Linked DNA regions of Homo sapiens. The protein of the gene in region 2 purifies or fractionates together with the protein of the main gene of each other region. This does not show direct contact. Each region holds a gene or a part of one and is shown on either strand. Other genes may lie near its edges.

Region 1 (7,191 bases), on a different chromosome or scaffold from region 2:
AAAAGCCCCTATCATTTGGGAGCTTCCTGTCTGATGGGAGAGACAATTTTAAAGATTAAGTCATTTACTGACTATATTAGATGGTAATAAGTGCCATCTCCACTTTATGGAGAAAAATAATGCAGGGGAGGAGGATGCAGAGGGTTGGAGATATGTTACGATTTTGAATAAGGTGGTCAGGGAAGGCTTAACTGAGAAGTAGCACTTGAGAGCTCAGGTATCACATAACTAGTTCATGCATTCAATACAATCAATGGTATTTATTGAGCACTTATTATATATGATGCATGATTCTAGGTCCTAGAGATAAACTGATGAACAAGAAAGCAAAGTCCTTCCTTCCATGCAGAGACAGACAACAAGCAAGGAGCCAAACAGGATAATGTTGGACAGTAATTCCTTACAATGAAGGACATGAACAAGGTAATGAGAGAGGTAATGAGGTTAGAGGGAGGTTGAGGGGAGAAGTGGCTAGGTTGGACAAGGTAGTTGGAGAAGGCCACTCTAAGTGACAGCAGGTGGACTCAAAGGAACCTGCTGTGCAAAGGTCTGGGGAAAGGCATTCAAGGTGGAGGGGATTAGAAGGGTAAAAACTGGGAGGTGGGAACAAGCAAGGCTAAGGTGTCTGGCATGGAGATAAAATGGTTCATGGAACAGAGCAAATCATATACGGTATGGAAACCCACGACTAAGGTCGGACTCAGGCAAAATTGTGAAACAGAAAAATGTTACAGTGACTCCCTTTCCTCTCTTTTTTCTGGACACCATTTCCTCCCCTACAGGTGCTTCTCTAGCCTCATTTCATCCCTAAGCTCTATCTCTTTCAAACTTGCTCTCAGAAAAGGATGTGACAGCTCATGTATACTTAAAAAATAATAAGGCTTAAAGGGAATTATTCCTCCTAAGGGCATTTAATCACAATGACTTTAATTATAACATTTGATGCATCAGCTATTTGGGTGTTGGAATATTTTATTGTTGGGGAGTATATTAATTTCCTATTGCTGATGTAACAAATTACTATAAATTTGGTGCCTTGAAATCACACACATTTATTATCTTACATTTCAGGAGATCAGAAGCTCAAAATGGCTCAGCAGGGCTGTGCTCCTTTTGGAGAATCCATTTCTTCCAGTTCCTAGAAGCTGTTCACATTCCTTGGCCTGTGGCCCTGTATCACTCTGATCTCTGCTTCTGTTGTCACATCACCTTCTCTAACTCTGACCCCCTGCCTCCCTCTAATAAGGACCTCGTGATTATCTTGAACCCACTTGGATAATTCAAGATTATCTCCTCATGTCACGATGCTTAACTGCATCTGCAAAGTCCCTTTTACCATATAAGGGGCAAATTCACAAGTTCTAGGCATTAGGATGTGAACATCTTTGGGGACTATTATTATTCCTACCACAGGGCATGACATTCTGGAGTCTATGAGTGGGGTCATTAGATGGCTCCCTATTTTCAGGTAGTTTCTGCTCATTATTTCTGTTGGAATTTTGGGAATGAAATAGTTCTGTAGTCTTTCTAAAGGGCCAATTGCCTAAGCTAGTTGGGCAGTTTTCCTCAATCTGATCTTGTAAAGCCAGATAAGACTGAATTTCATTGCACTTGTTTGTGCTTTTGAACACTTTTTTTTTTTTTTTTTTTAACCCACAGTGTTAATTCGAATGGCAGCTTCTGGGATGGGACTTAAACACTCTGCAGTTTCTGACCTCTGTGGAATTTGAAAAGCCAAAGGTCTAGTAAAGTAAAAATTAGCAGGAGCCTCAGTCAGGGACGTAAAGGAAGGACATTATTGCTAAACGAAAAGGTGAGGTGCTGTAATGAGTGTCACATGTGGAGTCAGTCTAGTGAGCGACTGTTTCCAGCTTTCTGATGCTTGGGGAAGCAGTACTGTTCCTGAACTTCCCAGCAGAGGGGGTCATAGAGCCCTGTGGGTTAATTTACCGTCTTTGAACTCCTATCCTCTCAAAGACTGGTCCTTGGTGGGAAATGAGGCAGATCAGTACTTTAATAAGATTGTGTATTAAGCCAGAGTCCATCACTGGTTCCTGCTCGTAAGGGCTTGTTATTTGAATTCTTCCCATCCACATAGCTCTATCTCATTCCCATTTCCTCCTTCATGTGTCTGCTTTTCTCAGCTACTTGCCGAGTGAGAATCTTTTCTAGTCACAGGGTCGCATTTTCAAAGGTCTGTTTGCCTTATTAATTTAATGGGTGTAGGTTCACCTCTACTTATCCCACGTTCACTTTTATAGTTTTTGATGTGTCCACTAAACTCAATATAGTGAGTTTATCAGGCATTCACCTGCTGAACTGCTATCATTAGCTAAAATAATAGTTTACAGGGATTTTTTTAAGCTAAATTGACTTTAATTTTCATTGTTACTTATATTGCATTAGATCTAAGTTAGACTTTGGAAGAATATGGGTTCTTCCACACTTAGAACTGTAAAGCATTATTTTAGAGGATGTTTATGTCGTTGACTTTGAATGAACATTGTCTAAATTGGAACAGGAGGTAGAAGAGTTCAGTGAGTGAGAGCCTGAGTTGGGGAACTGAAAGGATGGCTCTGGAGTGAGGATAGCCTTCGGCTCCAGTTTGGCTCTGTCAGTGCTACCTGTGTGATCTTGCGAGCAAGTCATGAAGCCCTGCCAAGCCTCAGTCTCCTCCTCTATCAAACTGGGATAGTAAGTGGTTACTGTTGTAGGAATATCAGGGTTGTGAGGAATAATCTATTGTCAAGTCAAGGCCTTAATACATGGCGGGCAGGTAATCAATATTTGTTGAATAAATGTCTCACGGTTAGAGTTCAGTTAACCTTAGCTATGCTGATGAGGATCTGTAAACATAAGGTTCAAAGCACTTATCTTTGGGTTATTATAGTTGGATAATAGGAGACCAAAACATCTAAGCAAGGGCAGTGTGTACTTGTCACCTTTATTTCATCAGACATAATGGGGTTTCTGCTAAGCATCAGACTTGCCAGCTGTTGAGGTGTGAGCTAGGTATCTTATAAAAAGTTCTAAGTATACATCTCCCAGTATATAATAAAACATTATTTAAAACCATTGTTAAAAACTGAAAAACAGTTGCAATAACACTGAACTTGTCTCTGGTTGCTGCCAGGAATAATGGTCACGGGTTTGCTAAGGCAGCGTAACAACTTCTGAAAGAAATTATTCCCAAAGACCTTATCACTCAATCTGAAATTAAGACATGCTGGATTTTTGCTTTTAAGTGACTCTGGAGGCATTTGTGTGGAGCAGAATAAAGCAGAAACCGACAGGCTGCATGACAAAGTTGGCAAGGGTATCTCTCTGTCAGCCCTGTAGGCTGCCTCGACCTGTCAGCACCACTGTTTAAAATTTCAGCTCCCTGAATCCCTGCATTGTAAGAATTTGGATCTTCTTGGGAAGTGGAGCCCAATGACGTGCAGCACACCGCGGAAGGGAAGAGGGCTTACCAGACCTTTGCTCTCCCACTGCCCATGCTTCTCGCTCAACCCGGTGCGAGACCTGACTTAGAGATTATTTCTTTCTCCAGGGCCCTGGACCCGTCCCCGCAACCCCCCGCCCCGTCTCACTGGCCCGGGTTCCGGGCTGGCCTGTGGAGAACCCCCGCGAGCGCACCGCACTCCAATGTAAAGCCAGCCACTGCCGGCCCGCTTCCCAGGTCGCTTTTCTCTGAAAACCGACCCCAGTGCCTCCGGCTTTACAATTTGAGTAAACTGGGTCATCAGCAACGGCAACGCAGACCCAAGCGACTATCGCCGTTCATTCAGAGACTGAAACGGGGAGACGAAGCGCGCGGGCGGGGAACGCTCACCCGGGCACCTCCCGGTACCTCGTCGTCGCCCCGCCCCGCAGCCTGTAGAGGGCGTGGCTAGAGGCCAGTCCGTGCCCCGCCCCTCCGGCCGCGCGCCAGCGGGCGGAAGTGACGTGTGCCCAGAGCCATTTCCGGCGGCCCGAAACTAGGAAGAAACTTGGAGCTGTTCAGGCGATCCAGCCTCCAATCGCTGCTGCTCTTGTACTCGGTTGGCCCGGGCGGCGCTGAACTGTCGGGAGCCTAGGCCATGGGGCAGCCTGGGCCTTCTGCAGTGTGAGGCGCGGGGCCTCCCGCGTCGCTCCGCTGACAGGCTGCGGGCGGGCAGGCGGGAGGCGTAGTGTGGGTCGCGGTGGCGGCCCCGGCCGCCGGCCCTGGCCGCGGCATCATGAACATAGACGTGGAGTTCCACATCCGGCACAACTACCCCTGGAACAAGTTGCCGGCCAACGTGAGACAGGTACGGCCGGAACCTGGGACCGGGCCCCTGACGGATTCGGCCCGCCCAGCGGTCACCTGCTTGCCTCGCTCGCGGGGCCCGAGCGGGCTGCTGCCGGCTGACTCCCTTCCTTTACTCCTCCGTGGTCTTGGGGAGACGGACCTTCAGCCCAGGGCGAGGAGGGGACGGCTGTGGGGCCACAGGGCCAGGACGGGGCGATCGCTAAATGGGATGGCATGGTGTCCACAGGACTCGACTGGCGCCTTTGCCCGCAGGATACATTCAGCCAGGCACCTGCGATAGAGATTTTAAACACGGTCCTTGACCTCCGGAATTTCAGGATGGTGGGAAAGGGATGGGAAACAAATGAATACGATACAGGATGATAGCAGCTCATACACACCTGCATTGTAGTATATGTGAGAGCAGAGGGAGGGAGAAATTATCCTGGGAGAGTTGGAAGGATTTTTAAGGCAGGCACTTAAATTGGGCCTTGGAGGACGAATAAGAGTTAAATAAGAGGGAATAAAGATTTTTCCAGGGGGAGGGAAAGTCATTTTACAAAGCTTGGATGAGTGAAAGAACATGTCTCATGAGTAGCAAGTGACTGTATCACCAGAGTTTGGACTGACATGTTTGGAGTTGAAGTTTTTTGAGTGCGCGGGGCTGGTAGCAGATGAGCCTGGAAAAGTGGTCAGGGCCAGATTTTGAAGGTGCTTGTGTGCTTTGTTTTGTTGGACTTTATCCTCCAGACAAGATGGGTTTATCAGAGATGTTTCAACAAGAGTGACATGAGGTTTTTGAAAGTTAATTCTCGATTTTTTTAGTCTGTTTTACTCAATTGTTTAATAGATATTTATTGACCACCTACTAGGTGCTGTGCGTTGCTCTAGGTGCAGGTAATTTGCAACAGTCAACAAGACAAAGACTGCCTTCATGGAGCTTACATTTTACTAAAGAAAGACGTAAACAAATAAATGAATAAATACGTAACATAGCAGATGGTTTTAAGTCTTACGAAAGTAGTGATATGGGCTACAGATAACGCACTGCTGCTCTGGTCATAGATTGACCTTCGCTTCCTCCCATTATACTTGGTCGAGAGTGAAATTCAGTTTTCTGTTGGCACTCGGCAGTGGCATTTTTGGGAAGTTTGGAATGGTGGCGGTGATGGTATATAAGGATTATTTATTTATTTTTATTTTTATTTTCATTTCTTTGAGACAGAGTCTCCTGTTGCCCAGGCTGGAGTGCAGTGGTGTGATCTCCGCTCACTGCAAACTCTGCTTCTTGGGTTCAAGCGATTCTCCTGCCTCAGCCTCCCGAGTAGCTGGTACTACAGGTGCGCGCCACCACGCCCAGCTAATTTTTGTATTTTTAGTAGAGACGGGGTTTCATCATGTTGGCCAGGCTGGTCTCGATATCTTGACCTCATGATCCGCCCGTCTCGGCCTTCCAAAGTGCTGGGATTACAGGCGTGAGCCACAGTGCCCAGCCAGTATGAGGATTGTTATAGTTTAGTTTACTTTGCTCCCTTCCTCCCTTGGGGATTTAGTGCCAGGAAGTGAATATTAAGGTTCTGGTCATGCATCATGTGGCCAAGAAAATGCTTTCACTTTAATATAGCAAAAACCGAGAAAGATAAATTTAAAGAACTTGAATTCTTGGGTGTCAGTGGCTGCCCGTGTGGCATTTATCTTAAACTGGGAGAACAAAGCTCTAAACCTGAAGGAATAAATTTCTTTTGTTAATCTTGAATAAAGGCTTTAAAGGACACTTTTGTACTTTAGGGTTTTGTGGCAAATCCAAAGACACAAGAAGAACAAACAGTTCTTCTTTTCTTTGTTTCCATTTTTTCTCTACTCTTTTCATCAGAATAAATGTAGCATACTGGAAGAAAGATGAGTGATGAGATTATATCCAACATGAATATTTGACTTTAATTAGTATTGGCAAAAGAGTTTCTAAAACGTAGTCATGACTATTTAAAAATAATCATGGGACAGTTAAAATTAGGTCTAAATGTGAAATTAAGTATGTTTTTGTTTTTAAAATCACTTGAAAAACAGTGGCTATTTTAGCTTAGGATAAGGTTGGCCATTTGTAGATGTTGCAAAACATCTGTACAAGTTTACTTCCAAGGACCTTCTCTAGCCTAATCACTGCTTCCCTAGGCCGAGCTCCATCTGAGATTACTACATCAGCCTTCTCTCTGGTCTCTTGCTCTTAGAATAGGACTTTCTCTGCATTCTTCATGCTACTCTGGGGGTGAGGCTTCTGAAATGCAAACCCAACCTTATTACTGCTGGTCTCCTTTATATTGCTTGTATTAATAGCATATTTTGATTCTCACTCTGATACTGCTCCTGGGAGGTTTCCCTGACCACCTAAATCTGTGGTGGTTGCCCCTAGGCTATCTTACCATTGCATTGTATTCCTCACCTGTCATAGAGCTTACCCCGCTATGGTGCATTTTGTGGTTACAATACTGGCTTTGCTTTTGTCCCATGAGCACCTCTCACATACTTGGCTTTTAGTATTTGTGGCTGAGCACCTAAAGCTCAGTCAGTTTAAACTTGGGGAATATTCCTTCTATGGAAAGAATTTGTCTTTTGGCATTATAGATTTTTAGACACTTCGATGTCGTTTCCAGTAAGTTTTGATGGGTTTACCTTGAAAATGACTCATTTTCCAGTTCTGTAAGCTAGGGGCAGGTGATTTAGATTTTTAAAAAATGTATTTTAAGCTAATTCATTTTTATGTGGATGAGAGGACATTTAAAAAAATGTGGTATGGGTCATGATAGACTTTTAAAAAATATATAAAAAATTGTGGATGGGGCCATTATTTCAGGATTTTTCTGTAGTTTACCACTATCTTGTATTCTTTATCCAAAATAATTAATAGCCCTTTTATTTTGAGG
Region 2 (7,238 bases):
GCTGGATGTGACATCCTCAAAATAACACTCTTCAAACAGGGAATCCTCAAAGGACACTGACTTGAGCCGCAGCCCAATGAACCTGTAAGGCCAGGATGGTGAAAGACACTCCCCCGTCATCCTCATGCCCCCTCCAAGACTCACTCTTTAGCGAAGTAATGGGAAGCTGGGCATTGAGAAGAAACCACAAGTGTTTGCCCCCCAAATGTCTTGTCTTGAACCCCTAGACTCATAAAAGAGACGAGGTAGAAGGAACAGGGAAGAAGTGAAGTTTAAAAGTCCCCACATACTTGTCATTGAAGTACTGCCCGCCTCGGTGGATCTGATTCTCCAACGTGAAGTTAAAAGTTACATGCTCTACGCGCTCCCCGGGGAACACTTTGGTGCGGGATGCGTAGTCCACTGCCTGGAGATGGCGGATCATGTCAGGAAACCAGACGGTCAGGCCATAGTAGCTGAAGAGTCAAGGACAATGGAAACAGACAACAGGGCTTCAGACAAGGCTCAGAGATTAGAATCAGGCAGAGGAGAAAACGGAAATGTGTATCATCTCAGAACAAGGGAGAAATGGAGTCAACCTCTGTTAGGACCTTGCTCCTCTCCAGCCTCACCAGCTTCTCCCTGCTCCTCCCTTCAACAGTTGCTGCGCTCCTGGGGGACTTCAGGGTCTCGCACAGCAGCCACTATACTTTTTCTTACCTCCCAAGCATTTGCTTTTCCCTCTGCCAAAAACACTCTTCTCCACCCCAGCCACCCCCACTCCACCTGTCTGACTCCCATTCACCTTTGAGGACTTAGGTCCCCACCCCAGCCCAAGCCCCAAGTGCTCCCACTGCCCTTCCCCCACCCTTCTCTCATCACCCTGCTTCATAGCAAGTTTCGTCTCACTTCTTTTTTTTCTTTTGAGACGGAGTCTCGCTCTGTCACCCAGGCTGGAGTGCAGTGGCGCGATCTCGACTCACTGCAACCTCTGCCTCCCGGATTCACACCATTCTCCTGCCTCAGCCTCCAGAGTAGCTGGGACTACAGGCGCCCACCACCATGCCCGGCTAATTTTTTGTATGTTAGTAGAGACGGGGTTTCACCGTAGCCAGGATGGTCTCGATCTCCTAACCTCATGATCCGCCCGCCTCGTCCTCCCAAAGTGCTGGGATTACGAGCCTCATCGTCCTGCTTCTTAACCAAAACATAAACTCCAGGAGGACCTTGGACCACATCTGTTTCATCCCAGCACAGAATAGAAACTGAATCCTGGTCAGCCTACAGTACAAGTTTGTTGAGTGAACTAGCGAAGTAGAGGAGCTGGCTGCAGGATCAGAGGGGGTCTGCATGGCACCTTCCCTCATCGCTTGTCCCCTGCATCTCCATTCTCCCCACCTCTCTCCCAGCCCACACACCACCACAACCACCACACATCACCCAGCCCACCCATCTCCTCACCTGAATGACATGGTGAACCACACACCCATCATCATCAGAGTGATGCGCCGATATTCGGGACCAAAACAGGAGAGAAAATTCCCCCAAACCTACAGGGGACCAGACAAAGTCAGACCTTGACTATACTAAGTTCTAGCACCCATAGATCCCCACTTTTCTGCCCTCCCACCTCCCTTCAGCTCACCCATCACCCACACACATAGACTTCAGTCCTGCCTTCTTCTCCACTTCCCCCACTCCCTTCTATCTACCACCCCGTCCACCATTACCTGCCCCCCTAGGCTCAAGGCCCGGACCCCCCAGCGCTGGTACCAGGTCCCTGTGTCCGACTGGATCTCAATCAATTCATCCTCCTGATGAATCGTCTTAATGTGGGTTACCTGGGGTCAAGAGAAGGGGTGGGCAGTCACACACTCTGTGTTTCCCAACATCGGCCAGGCGCCTCAGTTTCCCCTGCATTAGCAAAATGGGAGGCAGGAGGTGGATATGATACCCTGAAAATCTCCTTACGGTAGAGTGTGGTCTGAGGTGGGGGGTACTCAGAGAGGGGCCAGGTAGGGGCTGGGGCTGCAGGGCGTGGAGGTCTGAGTCGGGAGGGCTGTGGCTTACTGAGAACACTCGCTCAGGATGTCCTTTGGCTCGCATGTTGGTATCATGGACCTGCTTCAGCACCATCCAGGCCTCATCATGCTTTCCATTCTAGAGCCAAAGACACAATCCCCACATCCAAGTCAGCCCCTACCTGACCCAGAGTTATAGACCCCCTCCCTCCCACCTGGCTTCTGTAGTCACAGGACACTAAATGGTTCCCAGCCCTCAACCCCACCACCAAGCCCTGACCTATGGGCATGCACTCACCACTCTGAAAGAGCCCCAAGCTGAGGTATAGCAAGACAATCAGACTTGGGCAAGAGCTGCGGGTTGGGGGTGGGGAGTGTTGTCCAGGGGAAAAAGGCAAGCACAGGTCTTGGGAATTCCATAGTACAGAGGAATGTAAAAACCAAAGGTAAGGGAAATGATGGGCAAGCATGTAGTCAAAGACCTAATCCTGCTGGGGTTAGGAGGGGAAGGTATAGGGGGTGGGAATGTCTCTTGAGCTGTAAATGCAGGACAGGGCCAAGGCCCTTCCCTGCAAAATCTTAAGTCATCCATGGGTAAAGAGGTCCCCTGGTTTCTCCACCCAAGAACCCCTCAGGGACACATTCCAAGGCAAAGAATGCAAGATAAAGTCCCCTGGAGAGTGGACTCTGTGAGGAAGGCAGGCAGTCAAACAGGATCAAATCAAACTCCAGTTGGTGTTTGAACACAGAAGCCCCTGCTGCCGTCCACACTCCACAGCCCGCACCCCACCCCACCCCATGCAGCTCAGCCCCATCACCTCTAGGAAGAAACGGGGGCTCTCAGGCTGCGTGGTCAGAGCCCCAATGGCAAACACAGAAGGAAAGGCGCAGACGAGGACGAAGACCCTCCAGCTGTGGAACTGGTAGGCAGAACCCATCTGAAAACTCCACCCTGGTAGGGAGAAAGTGACAGCATCAGCAGAGAGGCCAGAGGCTGGGGGAACCCACCACAGGGAGCACAGAAGAAGAGGGAGGAGGGAGATAACCTGGGGTGGATTTCCGGGGGCTGCTCACCATAGTGGGGGATGATGGCCCAGGCCATAGCAGCTGCGTACACGCCACCAATCATCCAAAACATGCAGAGCCAGCTCAAATGCTCCCCTCGTTTCTCCTGGGCCAGAAACTCGGAGAAATAGGAGAAGACAATGGGGATGGACCCTCCAATCCTGAAGTGCATTTCAAGAATTCAGCATTAGCAAATGGCCATAGTCCTGATCCCCTGCCCCACTGCTCTGGACCCCGAGCCCCTTTTGTCTTCCAGGCTTTTGAAGAGACTCCATCTCACACATAAAGCCTTACAAGCTCCCATGTGGGCCAGCCATCAAGCACCCATCCTTGGGACCATGGGAAACAGGCAAGCGAGTCTCAGGGAAAGGGAAAGAGCAAATCTTAAATCTTGAAAATGAATTACAGAGTTGGAAGGGCGGGAAAGTAATTGCAGAAAAGAGAATAAATCTCCAGAGAAAAAAGACAAGCCAAAAGCCTCCAAGGGCAGATGTTGTGGGAATGGCCAGAAAGGAGCTTGGAGTTGAAGCAGAGTAAGCGGGCCTGCCATGCTTGCAAAAGTGAAGGGGCAGTGCGGACAAGGCGTCAGGGTTCTGGCAGGTGTGGGTGTTAGCAAGGTTTGTTGTGTAATGCAGGAAATGTGTAGACTCTGGTAGGGGGTAACTCTGGGTCCACAGGAGCCCAGGGGTGGGGCTGAGGCCCACTAGGCCTCTTTGTGGAGGCAGGCTCAAAAATGGAACTAGAGGTGGGGTGGAGGACTCAGGAGTGGGCCAAGGAACAGCATTCTGGACAGCAGCAGACAGGTCCTGGGCAGGGAGGAGCTGGCCTGAAGATGGCTGGGGGAGAAAGGAACTCATTCATCCGTTCAACTCACACAGATTTAAGGTGCATTTGGTGTGCCTGGCACTGTGCTGGGCCCTAAAGATACAACAGTGACCAAGGCACAGTCCTGCCCTCAAGGGACTTAGGAAGTGTACACTCACCCAACCCCAGAAAGTAGGCGGCAGAAGAGGAAAGTGCCGTAACCCTGGACAAAAGATGAGAAGAAGGCGAAGACGCTGTTGACTGAGAGCGAGATGAGCAGACACTGCCTCCGACCCAGCCGGTCAGCCAGACCTCCCCAGAGGAAGGCTCCCACCATCATGCCCAGGTAGACGATGAGGCCTGGAAGGAGGAGGAAAACAGGCAGAGGGGGTGTGAGCAGACACACCTTAATTCTCCCAGGAGATGAGCACTGAGGGAGCTGAAGGATCTGAAAAACTTCTAGAAGGTAAGTCTACCCAGAGATTAGAGCAAGTGAGAGAAAATGAATGGTGTAAGCAAAGATAGAAGATCATCTCTGCAGGCCAGGGGTTCAAAGGCAGGAATGAAGATATGGGAGAACCTGCAAACTCTCCACTCTCTTCGGTCTGTCTCATTTCTCACTCTGACACACACACAGTGACACCTTTACCCCTGGCTCACTTTGAAGGAGGAATGGGTGTGCCTAGGATCACAGACCACCCCAGGGTCCTCTCTATTCTCCCTGCTTTGATCCCTCAAAGCAGCAGGAGAGCTCTCATTTGTTCCTGGGGAAAGGGGCTCCAATTCATTTCATCTTCCCAGGAAATCTCCCACACAAAATCCATCCTTTACTCCTTCCAGTCTCAATATTTCTGGTCCAAAAACTCTCCTGTTTTTCACTGCCTTCATAAAACCAAAGCTGGAATTAATCTTTAAAATCATCTACTCCAAACTTTGCATTTTCCCATGCCCAAACCAAGCCCCAGGAAGAAGAGACCTGTCCAAGACCCCATGGCAATTTGGTGGCAGAGTAAGGCCTCGATTCTTTCTCTGTGAGTCTACGGGGTTCCTCCTCAGAGTCCCTGTCAGGAAAGGCCATCAAAGACTACATCCTGTCCCCTGGAAACTCCCATCTGAGTGAGAGAAAGTCTAACCAGCTTCTCTGGCAGAAGATCCAGGACCCTCCCCCCCTCCCCCAACCACCCCAAACTGACTCTCCCCATTTATACCAAGGAGTTTGGATACTGGCTTCTTGTTCCCCAATCAGTGAAAGGGAACAGGATAACCAGAGGGAAAGCTATGAAGAAACATTAAATGGTAGGGACCATCCTACCACAGCCACCTCCTGCAGAATGAAGCAGACCACCACCCAACCACTGGCCCAAGCCCCAGTCCAGCTGCCCTCCCGCAAGCCCCTCTGTCACATTCAACTTCACCCTGACCCAAGGCCAAGAAGAGGGAGTGTGTGAGGGAAGAGTGTGCAGAGGAACCCTGAGCCCTCTGGGAACATCTTGGGTGCAGGGTCCTAGGGAACCCAGTGGTAAGGACAAGAGCAATTTCCAGGAGCAAGGAGGTTTCCAGAGTTTGAGGGGATAAGGCTGGAGCCCCCCATGTCTTACCTAGCATGCCTTTGTTGGAGTCGGACAGGCACATGTCTTTCTCAGCGCTGGGCAGCACGAAGCCCACCACAAAGACCTCCACACCGTCAGCCATCAGCGCCAGACCAAGCACAAAATACAGTGTCCACTGGAAGCGGCCGTGGCCACACTCCCGTAGGATGGCTTCATACTGTTGGGCCAGTTCTTCTCGTTCTTTCCGTCGTTGTGCCTCCCCCCGGCCCCCAGGGGGACCCTCCCCATCACTCAAGCCCCCCCTTACTCCAGCCAGGGGCGCCCCATCTGCCATCCGCTCGCCTTTGCCCCCAGACTCTGCCCGGGGAATGCCCTGATATTCCCCTTCATAGATCTCATCATCCTCGTCATGGCCCTCAGTAGCATCACTGGATGCACCACCTTCCTCCTCATCCTGGGTCCCTTCTCCTCGGTAATAACCATCACTGGGAGCAGGGAAGTCATCATCATCATCCTCCTCCTCAAAGCGGGAGTACGATCTTCGGGAATATTCGTCCTGGACTCTGTCCAGGCCCTTCACCACCTTCTTGGCCGCATGCTTTTTGACTTCCTTAGCAATGTCTTTGGCCCCACGGATGAAAGCTGCCCGGTCTCGGAAGCCCTCTTCCATGATGGGGCTTGGGGCACTTCACTGGGTCTTCTCCACCTCCTGCTTCTTTTTCAGCTTTTTGCTCAAGGACTTGTAGAGTCAAAAAGACCCCTCCCCACAGTTACTTAGATGAAGCGTGTTCCAGTATCTCTGGGCACAAAAAAAAGAGCAAACAGGTCCTAGCCAATGAGTGCCTAGGAAGGAAAAGGAAGGAGAGGAGCTTTGACCTATACCCAGTTCAGTTGGGTGGATGGGGAAGGGACAGGGGGAGCAGGGGAATGGGAAGGGGAAGGGGAGCCAGATTGGGAGGCTAAGCCAGGATAACTCAGGAAGGGTCGCCTGCTTCTCTTCCACAAGCCTCTGGAGACCTAGAAAAAATAACAGACAGCAAAAGGAAGTTGTGAGTCCTAAGGTGGTGAAGAAGGCCAGTATAAAGCCTCTCAACCCAGAGCCCCATCTGGACCATGTGGTGCAGAGATGGTCTTCTCGCTTTAGGCTCCCATCCACACACTAAAAAGGGATGGCTATCTGGGCTAACCGGGTCACTCACATAGAAGTCCCCTTACTTTGACCTTGGAGGCCTGGCCTGTGGAATTTGCTCCAAAGTCGCAGTCACCTACCCCCAAACCCACCCCAGCCCTTGCTTTATCACCAATCTGCAAAGAACTAAACAGGAAATATGAGAAACCAGAATTCCCTTCTTTAGTCTTGCCTGGGTTTCTTACTAGGGGTGGAGTTGAGGAGGATGTGTAAGAGGACAAGCCCTCCAACCTGTGGCCTTCCCTCCTCTGATGGCATCTGAAGGCAGGGGCTTCCACTGTCCTTCCCTCAGGTCCCATGTTTACAGGCTTCAACAAGGAGGGATTTTCTCTCAACATAGTCTAATGGGTAAATGCTCAGCTTCCAGAGTCACAAAGACATGGGGTTGACTTCCTGTTTTGGCAAATACTAGCTAAGGGACCAAGCCTCAGTTTCTTCTTGTTTAAAAAGGGGAAAGTAAGGGTCGAATGATATAATGTATCTATGCTCCTTACCATAAGTCACCTGGCACATAAAAATGATGAATAAATATTAATTATTAATTTTGTGGTGACAGTAATATAGTGAAATGCCCTATACTACCTCATAAGGTCCCCAGATGAAAGCTATCTTGGATGCTCTTTAGGGTGA

What was found. Proteins that work in one complex are often made in the same cells at the same time.
Region 1: the proteins of SV2A (region 2) and FAM91A1 purify together in Homo sapiens (affinity purification with mass spectrometry; 2 studies listed by BioGRID and IntAct, with this or other methods). This does not show direct contact.

Annotation. Positions count from the first base shown.
Region 1 is NC_000008.11:123,764,486-123,771,676, forward strand, and holds the start of FAM91A1 (protein FAM91A1), read left to right. Parts: upstream 1-3,953; 5' UTR 3,954-4,217; coding exon 4,218-4,289; intron 4,290-7,191. UniProt on the Homo sapiens protein: As component of the WDR11 complex acts together with TBC1D23 to facilitate the golgin-mediated capture of vesicles generated using AP-1.
Region 2 is NC_000001.11:149,907,752-149,914,989, forward strand, and holds part of SV2A (synaptic vesicle glycoprotein 2A), read right to left. Parts: intron 6,437-7,238; 5' UTR 6,090-6,436; coding exon 5,468-6,089; intron 4,230-5,467; coding exon 4,049-4,229; intron 3,227-4,048; coding exon 3,075-3,226; intron 2,953-3,074; coding exon 2,819-2,952; intron 2,140-2,818; coding exon 2,050-2,139; intron 1,821-2,049; coding exon 1,710-1,820; intron 1,530-1,709; coding exon 1,441-1,529; intron 456-1,440; coding exon 291-455; intron 83-290; coding exon 1-82. UniProt on the Homo sapiens protein: Plays a role in the control of regulated secretion in neural and endocrine cells, enhancing selectively low-frequency neurotransmission.